Linked DNA regions of Homo sapiens: region 2 is linked to region 1. Evidence: fine-mapped expression QTL. A gene starts in region 1. The other region holds a variant in brackets. All regions are shown on one strand. Distances are from middle to middle. Region 1 holds the start of ING1 (inhibitor of growth family member 1). Region 2 overlaps CARS2 (cysteinyl-tRNA synthetase 2, mitochondrial).

Region 1 (2,867 bases):
ATGTGTATCCATTTCAACTGCAATTATTTTGTGTCTAAAACTGTGTACTCTGCTTTGCAACAGGATAAACCCGGTGGATAAAAGCTGAAATCCGACCCTGTCCTAATTAAGAGGCTAAGAAAAATGGAGAACCGCGCTGGCGTGGAGTTGATACAGAAACACTGCAAGGGCTGGGGACAGGGCTTAGTTCGTGGAATACACAGGCAGCACCACCAACCCGGCTCTCCGGAAAAGAGAAAGTCCAGTGAGAAAGGTGAAAACTGACAAGGCACCGTTCTCCGACTTGCTGAAAAAAAGACAATGCAAATAGAGCAGGGTCCAAGGCGGAAGAAAATCAGAGAAAAGCAGGCAGCCAAGCGTGGCGAACACAGCTCTCGGGGCCACCCCGGAGGGGACCCGCGGCGGCCGCAGCGGGGCGGAGGCCGAAGCCGAGGCCGCCCCGGAACCAGAGAGCCAGGCGGGAAGTGCACAAAGGCACGAGGCCACGCCCAGGAGGGGCGGGCCCTTTGGCCGGAAGGGGGGGGGCCGGCGCGCGGGGCCGGTCGCCTAGGCAACGGGCTCGCGTGGCGTCCAGGCTTCTCAGAAAGCCCAAAATCCGGGAGCTTTGGGAGGGTAGAGGGGCGACGCGGGGGAGGGCGGTCCGGGGAGCTGAATGGCCTCAGGACGCCGGCCGACCGGGTGTCTGCATACTGTGGGCGGCCTTTCCAAGTGTGGGGAGCGGCCTCCGAGAACGGTGTCCATGACACAGGGCGGGAAGAGATAAGGCCTAGGGAAGGCGCCCCTCGGGCCTATCCACCTCTTCTGGGGCTCGGCACTAGGAAGCAGCTTCCCTCTCAGGCCCCTTTGTCTCCAAGCCGTTCCAAACTGAGTACCGGGAGACGACACAAAGGGAGGGCGGTGACGGATGGCGCAGGCGCGGGAGCCGCCTAGGCTGCTGGGAGTGGTGGTCCGGCCGCGGAATGGGTAGGTCTCCCGCGCACTCTGCGGCCGCAGCTCAAAGGACACCGAGAGGGTGCCAGTGCGCATGCGCCGCCACTTCCGCCCGTGCCCGGCCCTCCCCTTCCTTCCGCCTCCCGGAGGACTTGGGTTTCTAGTAGTAAGAGTCCGGGGGGCATTACTCACGGTCTCCCCGCCTCCTCTTCATCGTGATTGGGCTGTCAAAGTGATGTTGGCAAGTAGATTGGCTACTGCGGTTGCCAGTTCTGTTTCGGGCCCTACTTATACTGCTCTGTGGGGCGGGGACGAAGAGTCAGGGGCTGAGGAGCGAGTTGCGGTAGTTGCTGTGTACCATGGTCTCGGAGGTTTCTGTCCCGCGGCCCGTTAGGTCCTGGTCGGGTTTTCAGCGAAGCAGGCCGCTCCCCTGCGTTTCCCAGCGGGCGTGCTGTGCCGCCCAACAGGCTCTGCCTCCAAGTGCCAAAAACTCCTAGTAAAGTTTGCGCCTCGCCCGCCGTCCACACCCCAGCGGCCCTGACGCTGTCCCCTCCGCGACCCTCGCCTCTGGAAAAAGTGACAGGCAAGGCCACGCCCCCGCGAGGGCCGGCCTGGAGCCCGCAGCCCCCAGGGCCTGGGACGGTGAGGGGCGTGAATGCGGCGGGGGGCGGGGCCGTTGCCGGGGGAGGGGGCCGGGGCGCATGCGCGCTGCGCAGCGGGGCTGAATGTTTCCCAAGTGTTTGAAACTGGTATTTGGGTTTTCCACGTTGGACAAGTGCGGCTCGGCGGCCAGCGGAGCGCGCCCCTTCCCGCTGCCCGCTCCGCTCCTCTCTTCTACCCAGCCCAGTGGGCGAGTGGGCAGCGGCGGCCGCGGCGCTGGGCCCTCTCCCGCCGGTGTGTGCGCGCTCGTACGCGCGGCCCCCGGCGCCAGCCCCGCCGCCTGAGAGGGGGCCTGCGCCGCCGGCCGGGGCGTGCGCCCGGGAGCCACCGCCACCGCGGCCCGCGCCCTCAGGCGCTGGGGTCCCCGCGGACCCGGAGGCGGCGGACGGGCTCGGCAGATGTAGCCGCCGGGCCGAAGCAGGAGCCGGCGGGGGGGCGCCGGGAGAGCGAGGGCTTTGCATTTTGCAGTGCTATTTTTTGAGGGGGGCGGGGGGTGGAGGAAGCGGAAAGCCGCGCCGAGTCGCCGGGGACCTCCGGGGTGAACCATGTTGAGTCCTGCCAACGGGGAGCAGCTCCACCTGGTGAACTATGTGGAGGACTACCTGGACTCCATCGAGTCCCTGCCTTTCGACTTGCAGAGAAATGTCTCGCTGATGCGGGAGATCGACGCGAAATACCAAGGTACGGCCGGGTGATGGATGGGCGGGGGCGGCCGCCTCCTTCCCGGCGGGTCCGGGCGCGCCGCGGAGCCGGGCCGGTCCTGCCGTGGACCGGAGGAAGCGGCCGGCTCCGCAGCGGCGGCCCTCGGCAGGGGCAGGAACAAAAGGTCTGGAGCGCCTTTGATTCGCCAAGGTCCTTGTGTGCAAAGCCCGGGACACGGAGGAGGAAGGAGGCGCGAGAGGTCTCGCTGCAAGGCTGCGCGACCAAAGCGCTCTTTGTAGTGAAGTGATGAGGCGGGTGCTGCGGGGGAGGGGGCGGCGGGTCCAAGCCGCGTCCTCTAGGAGGGGGTGCAGATTACGGCGCGAGATGGAGGGATGTGCCGGCGCCTGGGGCTATAGGGCGCCGAGACGGGGCTGCAGGAGGAGGGCGGCTGTGGGCCGGGGTTCCCGCGGACCCGGTGCCTCGGTCCCGGGCAACGCCGTTCCTCTGGCCCTTCTTCGTCGCCCCCCACTCAGTCCCGAATCTGAGTGTTACATAAAGTACCGGGTAGTACTCCGCTCGGGGTAGGTCGGCCGCCCCCGCCCAGCCCCCTCCGGCCCTCACTTGGAGCTGGACAC
Region 2 (2,903 bases), 52 kb before region 1:
GTCCACAGCATCTTCACCAGGAGTAGATTCCATCTCAAGAAACCACTTTCTTTGCTCATCCATAAGAAGCAACTCCTCGTTTGTTCAACTTTTATCATGAGGTTGCAGCAGTTCAGTCACATCTCCAGGATCCATTTCCAATTCCAATAGTTCTCTTGCTATTCCCACCATATATGCAGTGACTTCCTCCAATGATGTCCTGAACCCCTCAAAGTCAACCATGAGAGTTGGACTTAACTTCTTTCAAACTCCTGTTAATGTTAATATTTTGACCTATTCCCATCAATCATACATGTTCTTACTGGCATCTAGAATGGTGAATCCTTTCCAGAAGGTTTCCAATTTACTTTGCCCAGCTCCATCAGAGGAATCACTATCTATGGCAGCTATAGCCTTATGAAATATTTTTCTTAAATAATAAGACTTAAAAGTTGAAATTATTCCTTGATCAATGGGCTGCAGAATGTTCTGTTAGCAGCATAAAAACAATATTACTCTCATTGTATGTCTCCATCAAAGCTCCTGGATGACCAGGTGCACTGTCAATATTTGGAAAGGAATCCTTTTTTCTGAGCAGTAGGTCTCAACAGTGGGCTTAAAATATTCAGTAAACCATGCTGTAAATGGATGTGCTGTCATACACGCTTTGATATTCCACGTATACAGCACAGGGAGAGTACACTTAGCATAATTCTTTTTTTTTTTTTTTTTTGAGATGGAGTCTAGCTGTCGCCCAGGCTGGAGTGCAGTGGCACAATCTCAGCTCACTGCAACCTCCGCCTCCCAGGTTCAAGTGATTCTCCTGCCTCAGCCTCCCAAGTAGCTGAGATTACAGGTGTCCACCACCACGCCCAGCTAATTTTTGTATTTTTAGTAGAGATAGGGTTTCACTGTGTTGACCAGGCTGGTCTCGAACTCCTGACCTCATGATCTGCCCACCTGGGCCTCCCAAAGTGCTGGGATTACAAACGTGAGCCACTGCACCCAGCCGATTTAGGGTAATTCTCAAGGGCCCTAGGATTTTTTGAATTGTCAATGAGCGCTGGTTTCAACTTAAAGTCACCAGCTACATTAGCCCCTAACAATAGTCAGCCTGTCCTTTGAAGCTCTGAAGCCAGCCATTGACTTCTTTCTAGCTACAAAAGTCCTAGACAGCATCTTCTTCCAATAGAAGGCAATTTCATCTACATTCGAAAGATCTGCTGTTTAGTGTGGCCACCTTCATCACTTATTTTAGCTAGGTCTTCTTTCCTTCAA[C/T]CTCACAAACCAACCCCTGCTAGCTTCCAACTTTTCTTTGCAGCTTTCTCATCTCTCTCAGCCTTCATAGAACTGAAGAAAGTTAGGGCCTTGTTCCAGATTAGGCTGTGGCTTACAGGAATGTTGTGGCTGGTTTGATCTTCTCTATCCAGACCACTCAAACTTTCTCCATTATCAGCAATAAGGTTGTTTTGCTTGCTAATCATTCGTGTGTTCGCTGGAATAGCACTTTTGATTTCCTTCAAGAACTTTTCCTTTGCATTCACAACTTAGCTAAATATTTGGTGCAAGAGGCTTAGCTTTCAGCCTGTCTCAGCTTTTGACATACCCTCCTCATTAAGCTTAAGCATTTCTAGCTTTTGATGGAAAGTGAGAGATGTGTGACTCTTCCTTTCACTTGAACACTTAGAGGCCACTGTAGGGCTAGTAACTGGCCTAATTTCAATAATGTTGTGTCTCAGGGAATAGGGGAGTCCAAGGAGGGGCAGATTTAAAGGAATGGACAGTTGGTGGAGCAGTCAGAACATGCACAACACATACTAAGTTCTGTCTTCCATGGATGTGGTTCATGGAGCCCGAAAACAATTACAACAGTAACATCAGAGATCACTGACCACAGATCACCATAACAGATTTAATAATGAGAAACTTTGAAATATTGCAAGAATTACCCAAACATGACACACAGAAAGGAAGTGAGAACATGCTGTTGGCAAAATTGTGCCAACAGATTTGCTTGGTGCAGGGCTGCCACAAACCTTCAATCTGTAAAGACACAGCATCTGCGAAGTGCGGTCAAGTGAAGCTCAATAAAGCAAGGTCCCTGCAGTGGCCGGGCTCCGACCCACTCTGCACCATGCAACCCCATGGTCGGGTTCGGACCCCCTCTGCGTCATGCAACCCCACGGCCGGGTTCGGACCTCTCTCTGCGTCATGCAACCCCGTGGCCGGGCTCCGACCCCCCTCTGCGTCATGCAACCCCATGGCCGGCTTCGGACCCCCTTCTGCGTCATGCAACCCCATGGCCAGGCTCCGACCCCACTGCATACCATGCAACCCCGTGGCTGGGTTTGGACCCCCTCTGCGTCATGCAACCCCGTGGCCCCGGGCTCCAACCTTCCTCTGTGTCATGCAACCCTGTGCTCCACCTCCACGTGTGCCGTGCACGCTCTAACACATTTCTCTTTGTTTTTCTCTTGCTAATCTGTCTTTGGCCAGAGTCTAATTTACCAATTTAATTGAGGCTCCCCGGTGGGAGAATCTAAGCTGGGTAGGCGAAAAAGATCCTACACAGCAAATACAGCAAAATCATCACAACTACTGAATCTGGGTGGAGCCATAGTGATGTTTCTTTCAACTTTTCTATCGGTTTGAAATTTTGCCTAGGATAAAACGGAAAAATTCTACTTAAGGAAACTATATACAAATTATTTTGTGAGGAGCAGTCCCTGTTGGTGTATCCTAAATCTGATGGGTACAGCTTTCACTGGTTTGCTATTTAGGCGGTGAGATCTGGATACTATTCTTCTCCATTTATTTTGCAATTAAATTAAATCTGGCTTTAAAGACAGGCCAGAAGACAAAGGAGGAGTTCAAACTATGTCAGCCAGAGCCCTCCGTGGGTGTGCCTGTTTTCCATTCACACG

What was found. PIP is the estimated chance that this variant, and not a neighbour inherited with it, causes the effect. A credible set is the group of variants that fine-mapping cannot tell apart.
Region 2: its variant is the best candidate, but not a certain one, in a credible set for the expression of ING1 in blood mononuclear cells (TOPMed, PIP 0.78).

Annotation. Positions count from the first base shown.
Region 1 is chr13:110,712,015-110,714,881 of GRCh38, forward strand. It overlaps ING1 (inhibitor of growth family member 1), which reads left to right and starts at 1,686. Exons shown (of 2, transcript NM_198219.3): 1 at 1,686-2,271. The coding sequence starts at 2,136. It also overlaps a transcript of CARS2 not described here. RefSeq lists enhancers at 113-202, 803-852 and silencers at 343-682, 356-524, 1,523-1,872, 1,883-2,072, 2,233-2,522 and 1 more.
Region 2 is chr13:110,660,070-110,662,972 of GRCh38, forward strand. The region is part of intron 9 of CARS2 (cysteinyl-tRNA synthetase 2, mitochondrial); the gene reads right to left. Among named protein-coding and RNA genes, the nearest start is that of CARS2, 45 kb to the right of the region's middle. The variant C/T (reference allele first, on the strand shown) is at 1,258.